Linked DNA regions of Homo sapiens. The protein of the gene in region 1 purifies or fractionates together with the protein of each later gene. This does not show direct contact. Each region holds a gene or a part of one and is shown in the gene's direction. Other genes may lie near its edges. The genes, in order: ABCD3, ZNF454, NDUFS4, RTRAF, SLC39A12, NNT and AGPS.

What was found.
Region 2: the proteins of ABCD3 (region 1) and ZNF454 fractionate together in Homo sapiens (co-fractionation; one large-scale study listed by BioGRID). This does not show direct contact.
Region 3: the proteins of ABCD3 (region 1) and NDUFS4 fractionate together in Homo sapiens (co-fractionation; one large-scale study listed by BioGRID). This does not show direct contact.
Region 4: the proteins of ABCD3 (region 1) and RTRAF purify together in Homo sapiens (tandem affinity purification; one study listed by IntAct). This does not show direct contact.
Region 5: the proteins of ABCD3 (region 1) and SLC39A12 purify together in Homo sapiens (co-immunoprecipitation; one large-scale study listed by IntAct). This does not show direct contact.
Region 6: the proteins of ABCD3 (region 1) and NNT fractionate together in Homo sapiens (co-fractionation; one large-scale study listed by BioGRID). This does not show direct contact.
Region 7: the proteins of ABCD3 (region 1) and AGPS fractionate together in Homo sapiens (co-fractionation; one large-scale study listed by BioGRID). This does not show direct contact.

The regions. Positions count from the first base shown.
Region 1 is NC_000001.11:94,487,889-94,491,388, forward strand, and holds part of ABCD3 (ATP-binding cassette sub-family D member 3), read left to right. Parts: intron 1-3; coding exon 4-95; intron 96-1,836; coding exon 1,837-1,928; intron 1,929-2,014; coding exon 2,015-2,087; intron 2,088-3,295; coding exon 3,296-3,359; intron 3,360-3,500. UniProt on the Homo sapiens protein: Broad substrate specificity ATP-dependent transporter of the ATP-binding cassette (ABC) family that catalyzes the transport of long-chain fatty acids (LCFA)-CoA, dicarboxylic acids-CoA, long-branched-chain fatty acids-CoA and bile acids from the cytosol to the peroxisome lumen for beta-oxydation.
Region 2 is NC_000005.10:178,939,839-178,943,997, forward strand, and holds the start of ZNF454 (zinc finger protein 454), read left to right. Parts: upstream 1-1,359; 5' UTR 1,360-1,606; intron 1,607-2,846; 5' UTR 2,847-2,953; coding exon 2,954-2,986; intron 2,987-4,159. UniProt on the Homo sapiens protein: May be involved in transcriptional regulation.
Region 3 is NC_000005.10:53,644,139-53,647,638, forward strand, and holds part of NDUFS4 (NADH dehydrogenase [ubiquinone] iron-sulfur protein 4, mitochondrial isoform 1 precursor), read left to right. Parts: intron 1-2,094; coding exon 2,095-2,267; intron 2,268-3,500. UniProt on the Homo sapiens protein: Accessory subunit of the mitochondrial membrane respiratory chain NADH dehydrogenase (Complex I), that is believed not to be involved in catalysis. Complex I functions in the transfer of electrons from NADH to the respiratory chain.
Region 4 is NC_000014.9:51,999,546-52,003,045, forward strand, and holds part of RTRAF (RNA transcription, translation and transport factor protein), read left to right. Parts: intron 1-162; coding exon 163-251; intron 252-2,252; coding exon 2,253-2,321; intron 2,322-3,500. UniProt on the Homo sapiens protein: RNA-binding protein involved in modulation of mRNA transcription by Polymerase II. Component of the tRNA-splicing ligase complex and is required for tRNA ligation.
Region 5 is NC_000010.11:17,975,918-17,979,417, forward strand, and holds part of SLC39A12 (zinc transporter ZIP12 isoform 1 precursor), read left to right. Parts: intron 1-1,984; coding exon 1,985-2,157; intron 2,158-3,500. UniProt on the Homo sapiens protein: Uniporter that promotes Zn(2+) import from the extracellular space to the cytoplasm across the cell membrane. The transport activity is temperature dependent. May play a role in neurulation and neurite extension.
Region 6 is NC_000005.10:43,658,680-43,662,179, forward strand, and holds part of NNT (NAD(P) transhydrogenase, mitochondrial), read left to right. Parts: intron 1-491; coding exon 492-671; intron 672-3,500. UniProt on the Homo sapiens protein: The transhydrogenation between NADH and NADP is coupled to respiration and ATP hydrolysis and functions as a proton pump across the membrane. May play a role in reactive oxygen species (ROS) detoxification in the adrenal gland.
Region 7 is NC_000002.12:177,391,473-177,395,572, forward strand, and holds the start of AGPS (alkyldihydroxyacetonephosphate synthase, peroxisomal precursor), read left to right. Parts: upstream 1-1,300; 5' UTR 1,301-1,317; coding exon 1,318-1,577; intron 1,578-1,582; exon of another isoform or gene 1,583-1,652; intron 1,653-4,100. UniProt on the Homo sapiens protein: Catalyzes the exchange of the acyl chain in acyl-dihydroxyacetonephosphate (acyl-DHAP) for a long chain fatty alcohol, yielding the first ether linked intermediate, i.e. alkyl-dihydroxyacetonephosphate (alkyl-DHAP), in the pathway of ether lipid biosynthesis.

The DNA.
Region 1 (3,500 bases):
AAGGATTACTACCAAAGTGGAAGAATGCTTTTGCGAATGTCTCAAGCTCTGGGTCGAATAGTTTTGGCTGGGCGTGAAATGACTAGATTGGCCGGGTAAGATTAGTAATAATGAGCTGTTGCAGAAAATAATTTTTAAAAATATATTATCCTTAATGATTGTATCAGTTGAGATTAAGATAAGGGGTCAACATTTCCTAGCCCAGGAAGGTGGTTTTGATAGAAAATTAAGGAAGATTTTTCTGATGGTGAACTTTTCATGTTTCTTGAGGACAGCTGGTTTGCGCAGTACAGTAGATTAGAGGCTGTCAAGTTGTTTGCTCCATGGACACGTATTTGCTAAGTTGGGAAATGTTGAATCATGGCAGTCTTAATTCACAGAAAACTATGTTTATGAATAGAATTTTCTCATTTAAATTTTCTTGTCCTCTACCATACCTTTTTTTCTTGGATCTTAGATACCGGCAACCTAGCAAAACAGATGAATAGAAATGAAGTTGACTTTAATGGGAAAAAAAATGAGATGTTATCTTGTATCTGTAGGCGTGCTTGTGAATGTAGTCATATTATCTAGTAGTAAAATTATCTTTAGACAGTAGAATGAAATTAAATATTAAGATTTCAGTATTTCAATCTCCAATATAAAGGGCATGGTATGGTGTAAAAAACACCATAAATTTTAGGTCACCTGAAGAAGTTTGATGACTGAATATCTTTCCTAGGCCTGTGATCCATCTTCATATTTCTCTTTTTCCTCCTTCTTAGCTCCTGTGGCAGTTATGGTCTTCATGCAATATAGAAGTTGTTAACTACTATGAGTAGAGTCTCTTTCATGAGAATACTAACATTCTTCCTACTTGTTAACTTTTCTTATGGCTTTACAGTTCATGGTATATAAGGTGCTTCTGTTCCTTTAGGGTGTTTCCTTTCACTCTCTCTCTCTCTCTCGCTCTCTTTCTGTGTGGGTGTGTGTGTCTTTCTCTTTCACTCCCTCCCTTCGTCTCCCTGCCCCCCTTTCTTTCTCTTTTTTCCACTTTGTTGAGGTATGATTGACATATAAGAAACTGTTCATATTTAGTGTATACAATTTGATGAATATGGGAATAAGTTATACACGTGTGAAACCATCAAGACCATAAACATTCATCACCTCCCAAAGTTTGCTTTAGGAGGTTTCTGCTTTTTATTCAGAGAAAAATCCTGTTTTCTTCTTCGATGCAGAATACTTTCTCTTTGGCGATCATGGTCATTTTTGTTATCTCCAACCTCTTGTCGTTAGTTTTGATTTTTCTCTATTGCCACAGTGATTTCTATCTAATAATAAGAACTCATCATCTTTCCCCTCTTCAGAGTAAGAAAGAGGGAATCTTTCAGATTCTTCCGTTTGCAGGAAGGCAGCATGCATTCGGCATACATTTAATAAATGCCTTCCTTGGATAGAAAGACCAGCTTTATACATGGCTTTATAGGTCACTTCAGCAAGAGATCAGAGTCCATACTTCCTGGGTCTAAGGAATATACTAGTAGTGGTCCTTTTGTAGTATCCAAGAGAAACCTCCTGAAAATTCTCAGCAAATAACTGCCTTGACTTGGCTATTAATGAAGTATCTGTTGAGTTGGGGATCCTATGGAAACCTCTTCCTTCATCCCTATATTCCTGCTCTCCTACTGAAACATAATAAAGCACACATGTTATCATTAATACTTTATGTTGATGAGACTGTTAGGTTACTTCATTTATACTAAATTATAATTTTAGGAACTTCAGTTTGTATAAAATAAAAGATGTGACAATAGTCTGGAGTTTTGATTATGGTTTCCTTTTCTAAAATTTTAGTTTTACTGCTCGGATTACAGAATTAATGCAAGTACTGAAGGATTTAAATCATGGCAAATATGAGCGCACAATGGTCTCACAACAGGAAAAGGGTAAATATGAGTGTCACAGTTTAAGGTCACAATTTTAAGTGTTTGCTGACATAATATGATGCTTTAATACCTATTTTCCATTTAAGGTATTGAAGGAGTACAAGTCATTCCCTTGATACCTGGTGCTGGAGAAATCATTATTGCAGATAACATTATAAAGTACGTACAGAAAAAGGTCTTTTAGCACCATAAATGTTTGTTAAACTTCATAGTAGTCTTTCTTTTTCAGCTTACAATTGCTTAGTGTTTAAAATTATTTCTGCTTTTTTAAAAAACAGCTTAGAGGTATCATTGACCTAAAAATTGTGTATATTAATATTTAAAGTATGCAACTTGATGCTTTGATATCTGTGTATGTTGTGAAATGATTACGTTTTGGCTAATTAATTTACCTATCGCCTCTACATAGTTAACCATTTTTGTGTGTGTTTAGTGAGAATTTAATTTAGATGTGTCTTAGCAAATTTCAGGTATACAATATAGTATTTTCTACTATTGTCCCAGTACAGTGGATCTACAGAATTTATTCTTCTGGCATCACTGAAATGTTGTGCCATTTGACCAATATTACCCCCATTTCCTCTCTCTCTAACCCCCTGGCAACCACCGTCCTACTCTCTACTTCTATGAGTTTGACTATTTTAGATTCCACATACAAGTAAGATCACATAGTGTTTCTCTTTTTGTGTCTTGCTTATTTTGCTTAGCATAATGTCCTCCAGATCCATCTATGTTGAAAATGGCCCAGTTTCCTTCTTTTTTAAAAGTGGGGTAATATTCTATTGTGTGTATTTTGTGTGTATGTGAATATATACACACTGTACACACTATATTTTCTTTATCCTCTCATCAGTTGAAAGACATTTAGGCAGTTTCCATATATGGACTATTGTAAATAATGCTGGAGTGAACATGGGAGGAAGATTCTCTTTGAGATACTGATTTTATTTCCTTTGGAAATGTTCCCAGAAGTGGGATTGCTAGATCATACGGTAGTCCTAATTTTAATTTTTTGAGGAACATCCATATTGTTTTCCATAATAGCTGTACTATTTGTAGTCCCACCAACAATGTACAAGGTTTCCTTTCTCCACATCTTTGCCAACACTTACCGTTTGTCTCTTTGATAATAGTCATCCTAACAGGTGAGAGGTGATGTCTCATTGTGGTTTTGATTTGCATTTTCCTGATGACTGAGATGTTGAGCACCTTTTCGTATGCCTGTTGGCCATCTGAATTTCTTCTTTTAAGAAGTGTTTAAGCTCTTTGCCCATTTTTTAATCAGGTTATTTGTATTTTTGGTATTGAGTTGTATTAGTTCCTTATATACTTTAAAGTAATTCTCTTTTTAAAAATTTCCTCTATAGGTTTGATCATGTTCCTTTAGCAACGCCAAATGGAGATGTTTTGATCCGAGACCTTAATTTTGAAGTAAGTTTTTAAATGATCATATAAAAGCTTAAATCATCTTTAAAATGTGAACTGAAAAAGATTACCTGAATATTTAAAGTAACTTTAAGGCTCGACTTAGTCTCTGAATCCACAGAATTGCTTTAAAAAGTAAGTCTTTGA
Region 2 (4,159 bases), on another chromosome or scaffold:
CACCCTAACCCCTAACAGTAGTGTTATCACTACCAGATAAATACTTTCTACTTGTCTGACCCCTCCTCTAGTACAATTAAAACTCCATGAGTGCAGGGTTTTCACAGCTATTTCTCCAGCCCCTGGACTCGGGGTTCTTACTCTCTGGAGCCCAGTTTGAGTGACCTGGAGTCACGAGGGAGGCGAGAGAGAAGGGTTACCAGCGATACTCACACAACATCCTCCCCCTCTGGTGCTTTGCCGGGTCCCTGGGAACTGCTACAGGGGCTGCACAGCGGCTGACCCTGGCCTTGTCAAGCACTTGACACATAAGTGCTCCAAAGTGTCTATGGAATGAAATCTTCAATAAAACTCCAAACAGAATGCTGTAGTCACTGACACTGCTTCCTAAAACGTGGCCAACAATTCCGTATGTGACAAACAGGTCACATTCTTGATTTTTTTTAACGACCAACAAAGTTAAAACCCTCTCATCTTTCCTTCCTGAGCTCCATGCAAATTACCTATTCAAAAGCAACTAAGTATCTCCAGTTGGATATTCTTAGGCATCATCTCATCCTTGCCAGTCTCTGCAAAATATGGTCGACAAAAATAAATACCACCTTCTTAAATACCACCCAGCTGTCCAAGATGGAGACTTCCTGGCATCCAGGCGCCTTCCTCTCCCTCGTCCCCACCTCTGAGAAGTTCCCAAGCACGAAGTGTTCTGCGTCCCGAACATTCCAGGGGCCGCCAGCCACCATGGGCTCTGTCCTGAGGTGCCAAGCAGGACATCCCTGCCCGACATCCTTGTCCTCCCGCACCGCACACGCGTTAGTGGCTGTGGCGTCGCCACCCCAGCACACGCTGGCCCGCCCGCAGTGCCAGGCTGGAAGTGTCGGGCGCTTGCCAGGCCAAGGGGCAATTCTGTTGCCTTCCAGGCCTTTTCGGCGCGGTCCCAGTCAGGAACGCGCCCTGTCGCCTCCCACTCCGTCTTCCGGACCCTCCCGATCCTCTCTCGTCAGCGATCGGGCGTCGCTCCCCTGGACTAACCTCCCTTGCCCCATCTTCAGCTTTTCGCTGATCTGCATCTTCCTGCGCCTTAGTGCAAGGCAGAGACCTGGTTCTAAAGCGAACGGAACGGAACCGATTCTGTAAGTTGCAATGAGCGCGCTGAGGTCGGCGTGGAGGGGTCTCTGGGAAAGGTAGTTTCCGCGCCTAAAGCGCCGGGGCCGGGCCCTGTTCCCGCAGGCGCAAGGCAGCACTGTCTCCGCCGATTGTCCCTCTGGGAAGTGGAGTCTGGCCGGCGGAACTGCAGCAGCCCTGAGACTTGTGGGAATTCGGCCCAAGGGTTCCCAGGGCAACGCGCAAGCGCAGTTCGGCTCCCGGCTGCAGACTCCAGCTCATTGTGTTCTGACTGCGATGTGGCGCTTGCGATCTCTCGCCGCCGGCAGAGGCTCCTCGAAGAGCGACACGGGGCTGACCAGGCACGGTGGTCAAAGCCGCAGAGGGAGAGCGGGAGCGGTCGTGAGGTCGTCTGGGGAGAAGGGCGGAGGCAAAGCCGAGGAGGTGCGGGTTGTGGTCCATTCTGGAGGACGCTGATCGAATGCCCCAAACTTCCCGGAATGTATGTCTGAGATTTGATCCCAGAGAGGGAGGACGGCCAGGGGTGGTCATCCTGGGCTGAGGGTCGAGTCTGTGAGTGCCTGTGGAGGAGATGGAGCCAGGGCCTCTGGCATGTGTCTTGGAGCGGACTCCGAGAAGCCCAGGGTTTCCTCTCAGGTGATAGATACACGCCTGGCGTGGTTCCGAGTCCTGCGCCAGGAACTCGCCAAGGCCGGAGGCAGCCGCTGCGCAGCCCCTGCCACAGCCCCCGAGGGACCTGGCGAAGCGGCAGGGGCGGGACGGGGCTGTGTGTGATTAGGGTTCCTAACCCTTCCCTCTCCCCTCCCGCCCAGCTCACACAAACGCCGCTTCTGCCCACCCGTGACTCCAGGCCACCCAGACTGGGCCCCAGAGAGTGAGAACACTGAGGCCAGAGAAGGGTTTGCCTGAGAGGCTTCGACAGTGAAGAGCCTTCTTAGCCTCCTTTCTGAGGAGGAAGAAGACCACCCTCCTTTTCCTCTTCTCCTGTCACTGCCAGATAAGGCAGCTGTTCCAAAGCCGCAGAGGGAGAGCGGAGCGGTCTTCCAATCCAGTCGAACCCAGACACTGCCCTCCGTTGCCTCTCCCCAGCGCTCCCACCTTTTCGGGTACATCCTGGTGGGTTCTGGAGCTGAATAACTTGTTAAAGAGATAATTCTCGGCCGAGTGCGGCGGCTCACGCCTGTAATCCCAGTACTTTGGGAGGCCGAGGCGAGCCGATCACCTGAGGTCCGGAGTTCGAGACCAGTCCGACCAACATGGTGAAATCCCGGTCTCTACTAAAAATATAAAAAATTAGCCGGGCGTGGTGGCGGGTGCGTGTAATCCCAGCTACTCCGGAGACTGGGGCGGGAGAATCGCTTGAACCCGGAAGGCGGAGGTTGCAGTGAGCCAAGATCGTGCCACTGCACTCCAGCCTAGGTGACAGAGCGAGACTCTGTCTCAAACAAACAAACAAAAAAAGAATTCTCTTGAGATCGCTCAGTGAGGCTGAAGGGAAAGACCAGAGGGTGGGTGGAAGGCATGAGAACTGGACCTGGAGCAGGCTTTCTGCAGGGAAAAGTCAATGTATAGTACCCTCAGAAGGAGGAGAGAGAATGGGGAGCAAACAGGAACCAAAACACTCACTGCTTGGGGTACTGGAGGCCTCCCAGGATGTGAATGCTCACTGCCTCGCTCTGGACTGCTGTATGAGAGCTTTTGACCCAGTTCTCTCCTAATAGCAGGTGTGTGGACCCTTCTAGCCTGAGGAGTCCTGCAGGTGTGAAGCTCCACACCTGCCTCCATAGCACTTTGCCTGTCCCTAAGAGGGCTCATCGGAGAAGAAAGAATGGCTGTCAGCCACCTGCCAACCATGGTCCAGGTGAGTGGGGGTTTCTTCCCCCTAAATTGCTTTCTGGATTTGAAGAGTGTGGCATGTTTGCTTCCTCAGACCGGGAGCTTTATTCCCAATCCAGTCCCACCCAGACACTGACCTCAGTTGCCTCTCCCCAACCAACACCCTCCAACCCCGCCCCATATCCGGCTCATCCTGGTGGGTGTTGCAGCTGTATAACTTGCTAAAGGTCACATAAATGTCACAGCTGGGACTGGAACCCAGGTCCCTGTGAAATCAAAACCTGTACTCTTTTCACTAGCAAGTAAGATTAGGGATCTGAAGTGGTAAAAGCATGTATTAGTCCCTTTTTACATTGCTCTAAATAAATATCTGAGGCTGGGGAATTGATAAGAAGTTTAATTGGCCCACGGTTCTGTAGGCTGTACAGGAAGCATGGTGTCAGCATCCACTTCTGATGAGGACTTTAAAAGCTTCCAATCATGGCAGAAGGTGAAGGGGGAGCAGGTGTATCACACGGTGAGAAAGGGAGCAAGAGAGAGAAGTGGGAGGTCCTAGACTCTTAAACAACTGGATCTCACGTGAACCAACTGAGCGAGAATTCACTCATCACCAAGAGGATGGCACTAAGCCATTCACGAGGGATCTACCCCCATGATCCAACACCTCCCACCAGGCCCCCCCTCCAACATTGGAGGTCACATTTCAACAGGAGAGTTGGAAGGGACATACATCCAAACTATATCAGGGCAGTATCTCACACAGAGCTCAAAGAAGGGCATTGTAGGAACACTTTTCTGGGGAGGTGTGATTTACTAGACTCTTTTTCTTTTATGACATTTGGTTTTTTTACCAATGAAATTATTCAAAAGACTATTCTGCCAAAAAGTCCTATAAATTCCTAAAACGCTTTGAGCAGTCCTAGCATCTTTAGAATAAGAATATGGGCCAGACGCGGTGGCTCACGCCTGTAATCCCAGCACTTTGGGAGGCCAAGGCCAGCGGATCACGAGGTCAGGAGATCGAGACCATCCTGGCTAACACAGTGAAACCCCGTCTCTACTAAAATTACAAAAAAAATTAGCTGGGCGTGGTGGTGGGCGCCTGTAGTCCCAGCTACTCGGGAGGCTGAGGCAGGAGAATGGCGTGAACCCAGGAGGCGGAGCTTGCAGTGAGCCAAGATTGTGCCAGTGCACTCCA
Region 3 (3,500 bases), on another chromosome or scaffold:
TTTAATCACTTTGGCATATATGCATCACAGTATAGAAGTAGGTAAAGTAAAAGTGTTTCCTCTAATCTTCCTGAGGTAACCAGTGTTAAGAGTTTAATGTGTTTCCTTTCATATAGTTTTAAAAATAGACATAACTTACAGCTCCAGCTTTTATGAGCTCAGCTCAGAACAGAGGGGATGCTTTGGAATTTGGAAAAGATGCCCCACCCCATAATTCTATAACATGCTTATAGTGTTTGTTTATACCCAGCTTAAGCTGTAGCTGAGGAAACGAGACAGATTAATCTAAAGATATATAATATTAAATAATAAACTACTATGGCAGATTGCAAGTATTACAGTGAATTCAAAGGAGGAATTAAACATTGAGGACTTCCCAGGAGTTGAGCCACTTTAAGCTCTTAAATAGAGAATATATGCTTCAGGAAGTCATTAAATATAATAATACTTAAACTTTTTTTGAAGTTGAACCTGAATATTAGAAATTACCAATTAAAGTATTTCACACCTTTAAAAATTATGTGCCAGCTTCACTCATTTTTACTTTAAACTAGATGTAGGGAAACTTTAAAAATAAGTAAATGTAGGCACATATTAGAAGTGCATATTTGTGTAAATATTTATATGGATAATTTTGATAGTTTCTGTAAACAAGCTGTGACAAAGTAGCCACACCTAATTATTGACGCAGGTGGAAAGGTATTGTGTTAAATAGAGGATTGGTTGCCAACTAAAATAACTTTAAAGAATTGGTTTTTAATCTTGTGGATAGAGATAATAGTCAAGTCAGAAATGTGTTTCGTGTTTTTCCCACTAGTACGTACTAGCTAAGAATACTTACCAGCTAAGTATTCTTGCCAGTTATTTGGTTCATAGCATTGATAGATTGAAACTACAAATAAACATTAGTCTTCATTAGGGTGTGTATTATAATGACATAAAAATTCACAGACGTTTTCTAGTTTTCACAAATTTGGTATAATCATTTTTATATTAACTCTTGTTTTTACCAAGTTATCCAAAATTTACGTTAGTAAGTGAACCATGATTTTAAAATGCTTCATTAATAAGCATATGGTTGACCCCAATGTGATTTACTTTGATCAGATAAAGTATTTTACCATTACTAAATGGAGATTTAACCCATTTATGTCTGAGGTTGCAGTTTTTAGAATTTTTGCAATCAGACCTTGGCAATGGCCTTGAGCAGTAGGATATAAATAACTCCCACATGCTTAGCATTCCAATAATGGAACACTAGGAATAAATAAGTTTTAAACTCTGAATTACTTTACTAATTTGTGTCCTGACTGCTACTATGTTTTGATAAATGTATCTACTCTGGGGCATCAAAATTCTGTGCATTTTCAAAATGAGCATTTGTTACTGGATAAAATTATAGAAAAATCGAGTTAAAGTTACCATTGTTTTCATCTCACATTTTGGCAAAAATTATGCCACTTTTTGGGATTACTTTTGCAGAATGTGTTTGATTGTATCATTCTCTCTTTAGTAGGTTTCACCAAAGGGGGGAGATACATCACAATGCTAATTAAAGTTGTTAAATTTACAACTTTACAAAAAGGTTCAGGTTTCCCTCTCAAGGTAATGCCTTGTGGGTAAGCAATTTGACACAGAAATTATAAGTAACAGATTGTCTTCTATTTAAGATTTAAATAAACATGCAAATAAGGATTTACTTTTTATATCCCCTTTTCATATTTCCTTTGTATTTTTTCTCCTCTGACTAGTTCGCACTTGCTCACAAAGTAAGAGCATTGTTGACTACAGGCTCTTCTGCGAGCAAACAGTCTCTTCAGAAAATACCAATGCTTTGTTGGACAAAAGGGCGTAAATTTTTTTTACGATCCTTTTCCACTGTCTCCACTACGTCCCCCTAAATAAACCATTTACAGGTATCTAAATAGTAATTTACATTGTAAAGTATCAGAATGGTAGTGAAATAAGCCAGAAAATTTATCTCAATTTATGAACAAATCTGAATAGAGTTGCATGAATATAGGAAACAACAAAAGTACATTAGTGTGTATGTAGGCTGTTTGAAACGTGTTTTTTTTTCTTGTTTTTCTGTAGGATATCACTACTTTAACTGGAGTTCCAGAAGAGCATATAAAAACTAGAAAAGTCAGGATCTTTGTTCCTGCTCGCAATAACATGCAGTCTGGAGTAAACAACACAAAGAAATGGAAGATGGAGTTTGATACCAGAGAGCGATGGGAAAATCCTTTGATGGGTTGGGCATCAACGTGAGTACTTTATTTTAATGTGAATATTGTCAGCTATCTTTTTCTATGTAGATCTTTCTTCTAAATATGATTTTCAAACTCTTTTATGTACAATATGCTTATGACAGTACTTTTTGACGCTGTTAAGTACCACTGTGCTCAAAGATACACATTATATATTTAGATATTCAGATAAGTGTGGCTTAGCACAGTAAACTATGACATAGTCTTTTTCAGAGTACTACTTACTAGATAAAAATGACTGAATTTCAGAGCACTGTTATGGAACTCAAAGCTATGTATACAGCAGTCCCCCCTTATCTGCAGTTTTGCTTTCTACGGTTTCAGTTATCCGATGGACAGTACAATAAGATATTTCGAGATAGAGAGAGACTACCCTTAATATAACTTTTCTTATAGTATGTAAGTGTTATAATTGTTCAATTTTATTACAACTTATTGTTAATTTCTTACTATGCCTAATTTATAAGTTAATCATAGGTCTATGTGTTTAGGAAAATATAGGATTTGATACTATTCGTGGTTTTAAGCATCCACTAGGGGTTTTGGAACTTGTCCCCCCTCAGATAAGGGGGAATACTGTTTTATCCAAGATACTGTAAGAATGGTGTTTATAATATAGTGACACTTTAACTTGTTTTAAAATTACAATAAACTTCTTTGTAATATATATTATATATATATCTTTTTTCTTTGTAAGGGGGGTAGGAACTAGGTCAATTTAGAAATTAGCTAACTTGAGGGAAACTTATAAGTTCCTGAGATATTGTGATTAATAATAAATAATAATAAATTACTTTTAATTTTTATTTATTATTTTCTTTAGAGATGTGGTCTTGCCCCCTTGCCCAGGCTGGAGTGCAGTGATGTGATCCTAGCTCACTGCAGCCCTGAACTCTGGGATGATCAAGCGGTCCTCCCACCTTAATCCCCCAAGTAGCTGGGAATATAGGTGCATGCCACAGCACCTGGCCAATTTTTTTTTATCTTTTTGTAGAAATGGAGTCTCGCTTTGTTGCCCGGGCTGGTCTCGAACTCCGGGCTTCAAGCGATCCACCCACCTCAGCCTCGAAAGTACTGAGATTACAGGTGTGAGCCACCATGCCTGGCCATTAAATTGCTTTTTAACAGTGTATTGGAATAAATTCTTGTGGTACTAATGAAGTCAGTGACCTAATTCTCCATAATGGAATAGGGCCCAAATGTTAAGTAGGAGGGCTGATTCTAGTTAAA
Region 4 (3,500 bases), on another chromosome or scaffold:
TAGTCTACAGGGCTTTCTTTTTTCTCTTGTGAGTAGCAGTTTTAAAAACTAAGAGATTTGTTGCTACCGAAAAGTTAAAAATGTTTTTGTATGTTCACAAATATGTTTGTAATTATACGTTTGCAGGGTTGTAAGTTTTTGTTTGTTTTTAATCTTTTATAGTAAATAATCCTGATTTTAAGGCTGGTGTGATGGCTTTGGCTAACCTGCTTCAGATTCAGCGTCATGATGATTACCTGGTAATGCTTAAGGTCAGCTTCATGTTCTTGATTCTTGACAGAAACTGTGCACATAGAAAAATGTCTTTATTTTCTAAATATTAACTATTGATATTAAAATTATGGTTGAATGACTAAAATACACAGAAGAATATGAAACATAAAGTAGATTTCATGGTTTTATCTGATTTGGATTCTGTTTTCTGCCTGCACTATGCTAAATCCTTTGCAAAGATGTTCTCATTCAATCCTGCCAACAATCCTAGAGACAGCTGCTAATATCTTTTTAAAAATATATATCATATGAAGAAACTGAGACTCAATGAGGATAATGTCTAAGATGACACAGAAAATGACAGAGCCAGGATTTTAAGCACTATAACCCTGTGGTCCATTGTTTTTCCCACATTACCCTACTTCTGTTTAGTTAGTCTTTTTAATGATTCATAGTCTGCATTTGTTAAGATGGTCGAAAATGCCAAATGAGTAATGGTGAATTTGGTCAAAAATATATAACCCCAAAATCTCTTTGAGAAATGAATCTTTCTGTCCCCGATGCTAGATAGGCCACTCAGTTCATAACTATACTTCAGGAATCCCAGTAATCTGAAAGAGGTCTCTTGTTTCTGAGAGAAATCATAAACTTCAGAAGATTTATTCCTAGTAATCGTGAAAGTACAGTGGTGTGGATCAGGGGAGTGGTACTTAAGATACCAGACTTGGAAATTTTATAAGAGATTAAAAGCTTTTAACTAGACCTTGTGCATGTAAACTACTTTGTGATAAATATCACTCTACCCAGAAGAGATTAAGCCATAACTTACCATGCTTTTTAGATTTTTATTATTAAATGTCAGTTTTAACAAGACTGTTGTATTCCTAAGTTATTAAAATTTTCTATACTGAATCTGAATGTTAACTTGGATTTTCTCAATCCAGATTGCATGCCAAAAGACAAAAATGTTTTTAGTGAAATTTAGCTATTTCAAAGGCTTGTTCTTTATTCCGACAATTATGTAAATTGCCTTGGAACTGTTCTATAGTGATCATGTCAGCTTTAATCATAAAGTAAGTGAGAGGAGAGTCAGACAATGCATAGCGTATTTGGGATGCTTTTGTTAGACTTCAAAACCCAAGGGGATAAAGTATAAATCAACTACAACAAAATGCTATAAAATTCTAGTCCTGCTGCACATTTGTCCCTTTTGAGTTATTTTAAGAGGCATTCAAACAATAACATAATATGGAAAACATCTTAGTACGTTTGCCAAGTACAAGCATCAGTATATTAACTGTTTGGCAACCAGACTATTTAATAACATCTGCAATAACTGTTAAACATTGTTTGAATTCGGTTTTTCAAAGATAGCATTTGGTTTTTTATTTAAAAATTATAGTTTAAGTTTTCACACTTATTTTTGAGTTGTAATTGTCATCTTCCTAATTAAAATTCCATTTTTTTAAAATTTGATTTTTAAGTGTGTATGGATACTTGCATGCATGCCTACCATAATGAAATGCCTTGGTGATTAAAACCACCAACGGTGTCCTTTGAAAGGTTTGAAAATATTTTACTAGAGTGAAGTGATAAAAGCAAAGTGTAAGACAGTATGTATGATCTGCTACCCTTTGTGTCAAAAATGTGTATTCGTGCTAAGCATGCTCGTCATTTCGCAGTTTTAGTGAGGGTAAGGAATCTGTAGGGGATCGCAAGGCTCAGGTAGGAAGGAGACCTACTTTTTACCATGTGTCTTGCTGTATTTAAAGTTGTTTTTTACCAGTCACGTGCATTACCTATTCAAAAAATGGTTTTAATTGTTGCAAGCACCATTCAACATTATTAAAATACTAGAAGTGTGAAAGGTTACGTTATATTAGTGGGTTTTTTTTATTTTTAATTTAATGGGGAGTTTATTAATGAACTTAGGTAATTCTGACTTCATCAAAATGAGCATCCTTATTCTCTGGGCTCATAGAAGAAAGGATGACAGGTACACAGCCTATAAAAAGTAAAAATATTTTTGGGTTTCTTAGGCAATTCGGATTTTGGTTCAGGAGCGCCTGACACAGGATGCAGTTGCTAAGGCAAATCAAACAAAAGAGGTACGTTTCTATAAATCCTAAATAAGTTGTTAATGAACATTTCTTCTGGTATGGCCGTGATTTTAAACTTTGCATGTATCTGTTTAAGATATCCATTCTACGTTCTACAACTTAGAGAAAGGATAGCTTACTTCAGTGCTTCCTAAAGCAAATTGAATGTATTCAGTGGCTAGGGGGTCATTTTTGAGTGAAAAACTTCATGTTCCTCTCACTTTGTACCTTAAAAAAGCCACAAATAGCTCATGCACAGTCCACAAATCATGCTTGTGGCCCGTTGAAGTTTATTTAAAATGAGTTACCCATATGAAACTTACTGGATTATTTTGACTCATGCTGGAGAAGAAGGAACACACCTCACTACAAATTAGTTTTCTTTTTCTATCTAAATTCTATCCTTGCTCTTATTTCTTCAGAGTAAATTCTTGTTTTATTCAATTTCCTGGCATAAAACATGAGAAAGTAATTTGGCTAAGGTCACCTAGTTGGTAAGTGACTGAGCTCAGGCAGTCTGACTTGAGAGCCTGTGCTCTTACGGTAGGTGGGGAGAAGGGTCCATGCGTGGATGTCTGCATGAGCTTGTCAGTCTGCCCAGGTGAAGGGACAGGGGGTTCTGTTGGAGTGTAAGGTTCAAGGTACAGGTGACTGAAATGGTATCTTTCAGTCCTACCTTGTAGGCTGAGAAAAGCTATATCCCATGACTACCTTCCCCTTAAAGAGAAAATATGGAACATTTTTAGATTATATCAGAAATCCAAAGATGCCTAAAGTTTCACTGGCTGTGCAGCGGTGGAGAGACTGTCCTCAGGTCAGCAGCAGCAGTGTCTGATAACACCTGCCTCCTGCAGCAATGATGTTGTAGTGAATGCCTTGGGCACAACTATGTTGTTTGTCCTCCCTGCGCCCTTCCCCCATCTCCCAATGCCTTTTGTCCTCCAGCCCCTTTAGGCAGGCCAAGCAGTGTTAAAAGGTTACTAATGCCAGGGCAGTATCTCTGAAAGACACTGTTTTCTTTTAAAGGTTCTTACTGGCTCGTTGTATATGAATCGAGCCACTGGAAGTTGGGTTAAAGATCAGCTTATTTCACCCTCCCTATAGAACAGACAGTAAATTGTTCTGGTGTAATAAAGTCAATCATTCATTCATTCATTCCTTCAGCAAAACTATGCTTTGGAAGGCAGT
Region 5 (3,500 bases), on another chromosome or scaffold:
GTTTGGTCCTGTTTTCCTTTCTGCTTTAACAGGACAGCATTGAGTTCAATGCCTCAAAATTGCCATGCCCCCCTACTGTCAGCACCCAGAGATGCTCTCTGCACCACACTGCTGCTACTGGGGAGGTGGGAGAGGGGTGACATCAGAGATTCAAGACTGTTTTTTCTGCCTCTTCAGTGCCTATTTCAGTAATATGAAGTTAAAACCAGGTATAACGAGGGCTCACCTGAATTTTAGTTTGTATGAAGGTGCTTTTCTTGTGTAGATAGTTGTTAAATTGGTGTCCTTGTGGGGAGATGATTGGTGGAGGCTTCTATTCTGCCATCTTACTCTGCCTCCTCCAGTTTTTTTCTGTAGCTCTTTGAATATATCATTTCACTACCCTTCTGTCCCCCATTATTTAGATAAGAAATCAGCCATTAATTGTAGTGATGCTCCCAGGTAGGTGATGAGTCATTTTCTTTTGCTGCTTTCAAGATTTTATCTTCTGTTGTAGTTGTTGTTTTTTGTTTTTGTTGGTACAGATTCTCACTCTGTTGCCCAGGTTGGAAGTGCAGTGGCGCCATCTCAGCTCACTGCAACCTCCACCCTCTGGATTCAAGCGATTCTCCCATCTCAGCTTCCTGAGTAGCTTGGATTACAGGTGCCTGCCACCACGCCTGGCTAATTTTTATATATATATTTTTTTGTAGAGAAGTGGTTTCACCATGTTGGCCAGGCTGGTCTTGAACTCCTGACCTCAGGTGATCCACCCGCCTTGGCCTCCCAAAGAGCTGGAATCACAGGTGTGAGCCACCACGCTGGTCCTCAAGATTTTATCTTTGACTTTCAGCAGTTTGACTGTAATGTGTCTGGGTGTGAATCTTTTTGTATTTATCTTACTTGATGTTTGATATGCTTCTTGAACACGTATGTTCAGGCTTTTACATCAGATTTTGAAAGTTTTGGCCATTATTTCCTCTAGTATTTTTTCTAATCCTTTCTCTTTCTCCTTTCTCTGACTGCTAATATATATACATTGGTATACTTGCTCTTGTTACAAGTCTGTGAACACTTGTTCTTTTTCTTTTTTCTTTCTGTTCTTTAGAATGAATTATTTCTGTTAATCTATACTCATGTTCAGTGATTTTTTTCTTCTGCCCTCTCAAATATGCTGTTGAGTTCCTGTAGTGAACTTTTTGTTTCACTTATTGTCTCGATATTCTTAAACTCCAGAATTTTCATTTGGACATTTATATAATTTAGATTTCCTTATTAAAAATTGCTATTGATTTTTTATTGTCAAACTTTCCTTTAATTCTTTAAATATAATTTCTTTTAGTTCCTTAAACATAATATTTCCTTTAAAGTCTGTATTTGCTGAATCCAACATCTGGAAATACTGAGATGTATTTATTGACTGCTTTTTTTTTTTCTACCACTGTTGATAACACTTAGGAAAATTCTGTTTTAATCATAAGTAAGAAGATGTATAAATCCATATAAATTTACTGTTATGTTTATTTCTTCTTTGTACACATTATTTTTTAAAAGCCTAGAGCTATACTGAGGGAAACTAATCTGTGATCTTTAAATTGACTGCCATACCATAGTTGCATTAGAAAACAAGATCTAGTTTGTTTCTAGAATCTTATCTCCCTTTCACGGCTTTTCTTTCTTTTGCATATACACTTAAAAGGAAAACAATTTGATTGACTTAACTAAAGTAATAATTAATCTATGATGGATGTATAATGCCTCCAGGGAATAATTTCCTAAGGATTAGGCCAGTTTCATCTTTAATTTACATTTTTATAGAAAAAGAAAATCCTTGACGCAATGGAAGGCATTTTCGTGGGTGGAAATGTCCATTCTGTCATCTCTAGGGCTTAAAAAATGATAAGAATTCTTTGTAAGGGAATATCTATGCTGTAGCTATGTGAAATTGTGACTATTCGGAACTTATCTATTCTATGTGACACCAGATTTTATATGAAATTTCTAGAACTAGACCAACTCCTCAACACTCTCTGGACCAGAAGTACTTGTATCAAAAATGAGAAAATCCATCAATTTCAAAGGAAACAAAACAACATAATAACCCATGATCAGGACTATTCTAATTTCTCTTCATCCATGGAAAAAGAGTCTGAGGATGGTCCAGTTTCCTGGGATCAGGTATTGCCATTGTTTCTCTTATTCAAGCATTTGCTACTGTCAAAGGAAGCCCAGCTGTGAAAGTTTTATTAGAGTTGTAGAAAACTTAAAGAGTATTGTGTATTATCTTGAAAAGTAAAAATATTCTAGTTCCACCACGTAGTTACGGTTTTCTTTTTCTACAAGTGTATCTCTGTAGACATAAAAACAAAGCCAAGGTATATAGGGGAATGAAATATATTGCTTTTTCCTCCCTTGGGTTCAGATTGAGTGAATTAATAATTCAGAAAACATATTGAGCATTTTATGCACACCGCTAATCATCCTGGGCATGAGAGATACAATGTTGAACAAAAATAGGCACATATTTTTGCTATTATGTATCTTAAAAGTTATTTTCTGTTACCTCTGCCATGTATAATAGGAATCTGTTGAAGTTGACTCTTTCAGACTCATGTTTATTGTATTCAACTGCAGGTGACAAGAGTTGATCTCCATATTAATCCATGTTTGTGAAGTTTCCTTAATTAGGGCCAACTCTCAGGAAGAGAACAAATACGGTCTCTTCATGGAGACCTTATTTGAATAAAGAATAATTCATTTCTTAACATTTAGGGGTTACTTAAGGCATGCATCTTCTAAGAATGCCAATAATCATTTTCTGTGCAAAACACACACAACAACCTCTTCTCCAATAATTCTTCTCTGTTCCAACGTGTGACTTTCTTTGTGATTCTTGATGGTATCCTAACGTGGGACACCAGATTTGAGGACTCTGCCTATATTATTAGGTTGATCATTTTCCAAGGGTTGTGCCTGGGCCTTTCCAAGGGCTGTGGGCAGCAGCAGTACCACCTGGGAACTTGTTGGAAATGTACATCCTCAGACCCCAACCCAGAATCTACTGAATCATAAACCCCAAGTGTAGAGCCCAGAACTCTGTCTTTTAAGAAGCCCTGCAAGTAATTCTCAAAACTAAAGATTAGAAACCACTGCTTTTGAATATGTTTGTAAAGCTTCTGTAGAAATCTGATAACATCAACACAAGTACAAACATATTTCAAAATTACATAGGAAGGAATAAAGATGTTTTAAAGATTGTTGGCTGCATAACCTAAATTTTCATTTTCTTTATAAAAAATATGTTGTGTTCAAAATTTTATAGAATATAATGAGTCCCCAGTAAGGACATTTATGTTAGTGATTTCAGAAGAAATTTACTTAATGACCTAAATGGCACAAGAGCAGCAAGCGAAGACCAAGGGCGCAGAAGTTTGTAATAGAATAACCTTACTCTCTGAGAAGGTATTGTAAAACTAGAAACTATTCGACTTCTTGACAACAAACTGGAGAAAGATGCATGG
Region 6 (3,500 bases), on another chromosome or scaffold:
GGGACTCCTTCCCTCTAGCCTGCTTCTTTGTGGGATTCCCCTTATTACTTTCCAGCTGCCTTAGTCATCTCAAATGCTATCTTCAGGATCTTCAAGTCAGTAAGACTGTGGGCTTATATTTTATAATTTCCTTAACTGGTACCAACAGGGGATTGCCCTCAGTCTAAAGCCATAAAAACTGGGAAATTCACTTAGTGTCATTGTATTTTTCCAAATGTAGACGCTTCTCCAGTTTCTGCCTGCTTTTCATCACTGAAAAGTGTTTTTTTAAAATGTAGGGATTTTTTTTTAGGGGGGTGGGTGGCTCAGTGTTTATAGTTGTTATACCTGTGGAAGTGTTGGTCAGATGGGAGACACTTATTACCGGAAGTGGAACTTATATGTAAATATATTAATGGGAAAACTAGAATAATTAAGGAGCAAAATGTTAAATGTCAGAGGTTTTATTTTTATGTTATTAATTTTGAGTTCTGATTTGATTGTTGTTCTAGGGTGTGACTTTGACAGCTGCTATTGGGGGTGCTGACATGCCCGTCGTTATCACTGTGCTGAACAGCTACTCAGGCTGGGCCCTGTGTGCAGAGGGCTTCCTGCTCAACAACAATCTGCTGACCATCGTGGGTGCACTCATAGGCTCGTCTGGTGCTATCCTGTCATACATCATGTGTGTGGTAAGAAACAACACATACATGAAACAAAAGGAAATGGCTTCCTGAAAACATGGATGTGCATGTCATTTCTTTTATTACCCATAAAAATGAATATTGTAGGCTGGGCATGGTAGCTCACACCTGTAATCCCAGCACTTTAGGAGGCCAAGGCAGGTGGATCACGAGCTCAGGAGTTCAAGACCAGCCTGCCCAAGATAGTAAAACCCTGTCTCTACTAAAAATACAAAAATTAGCCAGGCGTGGTGGTGGGTGCCTGTAATCCCAGCTACTTGGTAGGCTGAGGCAGAGAATTGCTTGAACCCAGGAGGCAGAGGTTGCAGTGACTGAGATCATGCCACTGTACTCCAGCCTGGGTGACATAGCGAGACTCCATCTCAAAAGAAAAAAAAAAGAGTATGGTAGCTTTGAATTCTCTTCAGCAGACATAGCAGAGTATTTCATTTGCATAAATTTCCAAGACTGCCTTTAAGGTACCCAACTGTAAATAATTAGGAAAATTAAATAGAAAGATGAAAATCTTCTAGTGCCTCTCTCCATCTGGAGATAAACAGGTAAGATTTTGGTTTATTTCCTTATGTATGGCATATCTGTGTATTTACTTGTCTGATCGTGTTGTATATTGTCCTACATTTAAAAAAACTTATATACTATATTGTTGACTTTTTGTCATTAAAAATTCTTTTAAAATATTATTTTAAGAGACTTTATCGTGATCCATCATATGGATATACAAAATTTATTTAATTTGCCCTTAATGCTATACATATGAAGTTGTTTGATTTTGATTTCTCTTTGTACATATCTTTGACATTTCAGATTTTTGTCTTAAGATAGATTCCTAGAATTTATAGGCTCATTATACTTATAGCCATGTTTCTGGAAAGGTTGTTCTAATTTACACTCCTGTTGGTCATCTGTGAGAGTTTCTACCTTAGAAGTTTTGTGGTCAGCATGATGGTTTTTTAAAAGAACAGAAAAAAGTAACAACACTAATACTTCCTAGCTTTTCTGTTTGTTTCAAGTTCTCTTCTTGATGGCAAGAAGATGTTCTGCAAATATTATAATTAAAGGTTTGAGTAGAACTTTTTTTTTCAAATTATGGATGTTATTTTCTAAATAATAATGAAACTAAATGAAAGCAGAACGTGATTTTACACTGATAAATAATTTAGACAAGAAAGGGATCTGTATTAGTCCATTCTCACACTGCTGTAAAGAACTACCTCAGACTGGGTAATTTATGAAGTAAAGAGGTTTAATTGACTCACAGCTCCACAGGCTTAACAGGAAGCATGACTGTGAGGCCACAGGAAGCTTACAATCATGGCAGAAGGTGAATGGGAAGCAAGCACATCTTACCATAGCGGAGAAGGGGAGAGAGTGAAGGGGGATGTGCCACACACTTTTAAAGCACCAGATCTCGTGAGAACTCACTAGCATAAGAACAGCAAGGCGGAAGTCAGCCCCCATAATCCATCACCTTCCACCAGGTCCCCCCGTGGCATGTGGGGATTACAATTCGACATGAGATTTGGGTAGGGACTCAGAGCCAAACCATATCAGATACTTACTCTACCTTCATTCTTTTATTATAATATTTTAAAAAACTCGCTTATTTTACAACTCAGGATTTTTCTTATGATTTAACTGAAAATCTCATTGTAATTTGGAAGGCTGAAGTATCTTTTCATAGTAAAAAATATTTTTGTTTCTTAGGCTATATTGCAAAACAAAGGATTTGATAGCCCAAATTCAAAACAAGCTAAGGGGTTTTAAAATTAAATAGCCTAAATTACCTGGGGAATTTGGAAAGGTGAAGGTTTATGTATCCTATTTGAAAAGTGTCAGGCTTTGTGACAGAAAGAAGAAACATTTGTGAAGAAGAAATGTTTATGAAATTGTACTAGAAATACAGTTTTCTGTAAAAGTAAACTTTTAACCCTTAGTTTGATTTTGCTTCAGTTGATGAATTTGAATGACCAGCAGGGGGCAGCAGATTTTCATTATTACTTAAACTTGCGGTTTGTCAGAAAGTGGCTTTTATTTATTTATTTATTTATTTATTTATTTTTATTATACTTTAAGTTTTAGGGTACATGTGCACATTGTGCAGGTTAGTTACATATGTATACATGTGCTATGCTGGTGCGCTGCACCCACTAACTCGTCATCTAGCATTAGGTATATCTCCCAATGCTATCCCTCCCCCCTCCCCCCACCCCACCACAGTCCCCAGAGTGTGATATTCCCCTTCCTGTGTCCATGTGATCTCATTGTTCAATTCCCACCTATGAGTGAGAACATTCGGTGTTTGGTTTTTTGTTCTTGTGATAGTTTACTGAGAATGATGATTTCCAATTTCATCCATGTCCCTACGAAGGACATGAACTCATCATTTTTTATGGCTGCATAGTATTCCATGGTGTATATGTGCCACATTTTCTTAATCCAGTCTATCATTGGTGGACATTTGGGTTGGTTCCAAGTCTTTGCTATTGTGAATAGTGCCGCAATAAACATATGTGTGCATGTGTCTTTATAGCAGCATGATTTATAATCCTGTGGGTATATACCCCAGTAATGGGATGGCTGGGTCAAATGGTATTTCTAGTTCTAGATCCCTGAGGAATCAGAAAGTGGCTTTTAAAGTTAAATGGGAGGATTTGAAGGATTTGAATGTTAACAAAGCCTATGGCATGCTGATATGGGGAGAGGAGGGAAGAAGACTTGTTTCTAGTTCTTGAAATGTCAGCATGGGTAATTTCTCATTTTATCCTTTTTTAAAAATGGTTTTCTTTAGGTTTTTAAATTTATAAAGAGTATTCCCCA
Region 7 (4,100 bases), on another chromosome or scaffold:
CTAACCATTTCTCTGTTGCTAGACATTTGGACTGTTTTCAATGGTTTGGTATCTCTTCGTATATAAATTTCAGAAGACATTCGGACCTCCTGTAAAGGCCAGGTAATACATATTTTGGGGCTTCTGGGACCACATAAGGTCTCTGTTGCATATTCTTTTAAAAAATTTCTTGTTTTCTTTTAACAACCCTTCTCAAATACAAAAACCATTAGCATGAGGGCTGTGTAAAAACAGGCCACAGACTAGAGCTGGCCCTCCAACAGCAATTTGCTTAGCCCTTAATTGAGAGTTTTTAACCAGTCTGGGCCTCTTTGGAAGTTCACTCTAAAGGCATAATCTCAATTTTAGAAGCTGGCAACACCCAAGAGAGCAATTGTTAGTCTCTAGTCCCATGGATGTGGTGTTCTTCAGATTCCTCTGCCAATATTTTTCTTGTTAGGAAAGCATGATGTGAAAGTGGTGACAGGATGGAGAATGACAATGGCCAGTGTATGTGAGTTTTTGTCTAAGCTAATTCTTATGCAAGACACCGGCTGAAACAGGTGAGGAGCACTTTTCACGTGCTATCTTCCAGAAATGAATTCAATCTGTAAATAACTGAGATGTCTTCACAGCTCTTGGGTAATTTTTGTCTGTAGCAATAAGAAACTTTATCTCTATTAAAGTTAGGAAGGGGTTAGGATCCAGTAATGAATGAAATGAGAACTTAAGTTGCAACTCAGTTTCTGTACTTACTTGTGATCTAGCATTAAACACAGTGCCAGGCACGAAATAGGTGGTGAGAAATAAGAAAATGATAGAGCTATTTGCTCTAATGGTTAGAGGCAATGATGGTCAGCTTTGAGTTACTTTGGTGACCCCGCAGGGAGGAAGAGCACAGGTGGAACATTAGAATCTCTTTCAGGAAAAGGATGCCGCTGGATCCATCAGGTCCAGTAGCACTGCCCATTTCTCCTGCTCCAAGGCATCTGCCCTCGAAAGCCCCCAGGCCACACCCGAGGACACCACCCAGGGTTCTAGGACACCTCGAGGGCGGACGTGGTTTGGCTCTCGGTCCAGCTGGACCGGGCTGGGCCAACCGGGAGTCAGCTCGAACTCACCTGCTTGGCAGGTGCGCGCTTCCCGAGGCGTGACAAGGGAGCGCCGGCGCGGTGGGTGGGGGGCAGAGAATGTGAAGCTCCAGACGCATGGCACCCGCCGCCAAGTCGCCGCGGTGGCTGCCGGGATGCGCCGCAGCGAATGGTCGCGCCGGGCGCCGCTCTGAGTGACCTTTCACCCGCGCCCAGCGGTTCCGGGCGGCAGCACAAGGCGGTAGCCATGGCGGAGGCGGCGGCTGCAGCGGGTGGGACTGGCTTGGGCGCGGGCGCGAGCTACGGGTCTGCAGCGGACCGGGACCGGGACCCGGACCCGGACCGCGCCGGGCGGAGGCTGCGGGTTCTCTCTGGCCATCTGCTGGGCCGGCCCCGGGAGGCTCTGAGTACCAATGAGTGCAAAGCGCGGAGAGCCGCGTCGGCGGCCACGGCAGCGCCCACGGCCACTCCCGCCGCGCAGGAGTCGGGCACCATCCCAAAGAAGCGGTGAGTAGCGGTATGTGGAAGGAGTTAGCGTCGAGGGACCAGGCCGGGCCTGTGCTGCAGGAGGGCACAGGCGAGGTGGGAAGGGAAGTGACACGGGTGGGCGGAAGGCATCCCGGTCCCTGAAAGTAGGGACCCACCTCTCTTTCGAGAGAGTGGACTAGACCCTGGATTCTGTCAGGAAGGGGGCGGGATGGGATGGTGGATTTTGGTCACTATGTGAGGGTAACAGGCTTGAAGAACTCTCGTTGGAGAAGGGTTTAAAGGATTCCTTTTTCCTGAGCTTTTAGTGCCAGGAATTCATTTTTTATCTTGAATTAATACTTTTGGTGCTGAGGTCTTGGAATGGGTAGCAGAGGTTCTATTTTTCTCCGAGGAGATATAAATTTGTACTAGATGATAGATCATAGGAATCTCTCTCATTCGCGAAAGCCTGCTGTGGGGGAAACTGGTGGTGCCCTGGAAAAAGGTGCTGACTGGTTTCTGTGGGGTAAGTTCCACTTGCTTAGGATCAAGATGTATTGACTTTGAGGGAGGAAACCGATGAATGGTAAGAAGCCATAAACTGCAAACACTAGCTAGTGGTTTAAGGTGTGGTGGTATAGCTACTGAGCTCTGTGTAACCAGAAGCTAAAAGACAAGAGTCTAACCGATGAGGGATGTTTGTAAGAGATCTTGACTTTCGATGTTTTTGGAGAAATCTTTTTTTTTTTTTTTGTATTTTTAGTAGAGACAGGGTTTCACCGTGTTAGCCAGGATGGTCTCGATCTCCTCAATCTCTGATGAAGGCTATTAGGAGAAGCTACTTTCTGACGTGTGGCTTTGTCACCGTGGATAAATGGATAAACCGAGAGTGAAAAAAATAAGTAGCTAATGTTTAAAGTGTACTTTTAAGTGTGCCAAAGTGTGCTAAATCCTTTGTTTCTTCCCAAGCTATGAGGTATGTGCGGTTTTCTCCCATTTTACAGATGAATAAATTAAGTCTGCTGGAGTCTTAGCAGATATGCTGTGTGACAGGTTAGAATTTGAAAGCACATCAAATTGACTTCATGGCCAAGTTCCTAAGCTATACTTGCTTCTGATGAATTAATTCAACATACATGAGTCTTTACAAAATACACACTGTACCAGCAATACAGAAATTTAAAAATACGGTATTTACTCTTAAGGAAGGAATAGCTTAGTAGGTAAAATTATAATACAGCGTTATAAGAAACTTAACTGGGAACTATACCACCTGGTCATTTAACCCAGTTTTGGGTTTGTGTTTGTTAGTGCAAAGATGTTCCAAAGTAAAGATTGTCTGAGTAAATTTTGGATGTTTGCATTACTAATAGTTTGCCAAAGGGGGAAATTGTTCTTGGCATACAAACAGTATGTTCACAGGTAAAGAAGTGAGAGACAAATTAGGGAACTGCTGAGACTCAAGTGTAGTAGGAGAGGGTGAGAATGACAGGGGACGAAGACTGGAGAGGTGAATCTTGTTTACAGGATTTTACGTGGGGCAATACATGATTAGATTTACCTTTGATAAAGGTCACACTGGGAGCAAATTGAAGACAGTTGAGCATTTTGGCAGTATAATGGCTGGGAACATAGACCTGGATTTCAATTTCCACTACACCGTTACAGCTCTATGATCTTGGGCAAATCACTTAACCTCTGAGAGTTTCAGTCACCGTCATTTGTAAAAACGGGAACAGTAATCCTGTTTTGCAGTGTTGCTGTGAGAATTGAAAAAAATAGAGTTAAATGATCAAGTGTTTAGTGCAATGCCTGTTACATAACCTTTCAAAGAATGGTAGCTGCAATTTTCACAGTGTCTAAAGGCAGAGAGACTAGGAGACTATTATTCCAGGGAGAAATGCTGGGATTCTGAACTAAGGCATATTATTGGGAGTAGGCAACTTAATTGAGAAAATGCTAGGAGGTAAATTTTCCATAACTTGGTTACTGAGTGGTGGGGAGGGGAGGAATAAAGGATTTCATCTCGTCTCCTGGCTTCAATTGAGGTTATATTATTAATAGCTGTCATTAGGTTTAAAATTTTCTAAATGGTTTCATGTACATTTATGTGTTCTCATTTGTATGCATATATGTGATTGTACATTTTATGTAGATTCACACTCTTAGAACCAAGTAAGGAGGGCAGGTTTTCCTTATGGTTAGATTTAATGGCTTGGTTTACAGCATTCAGAGAAAAAATAGTAACGTTTGTAAGGCACACCAAGATGATGGTTGAAGGTGACTGGTCAGGGATGCCCTGTGTGGCTGCTCCAAGGACTGAAGGCATCGATAGTTCAGGCACGACTGTAACCCATTTGTTGCATAGGTTACAGCTGGTGGGAAGCCCTGGTCTTTGGTTCGGGGTTAGACGACTAGTGGTAAAATCTAGTCCTGTACTGGTACTTTGAGATTTTCATCAAAATATGAGGGAACACAGAAACTTGTATTAGATGACACATCAAAAGCTTCCACAGAGGGTGATATACTTGATAGATAATCATGAGGAACCCAAGTCTCCCT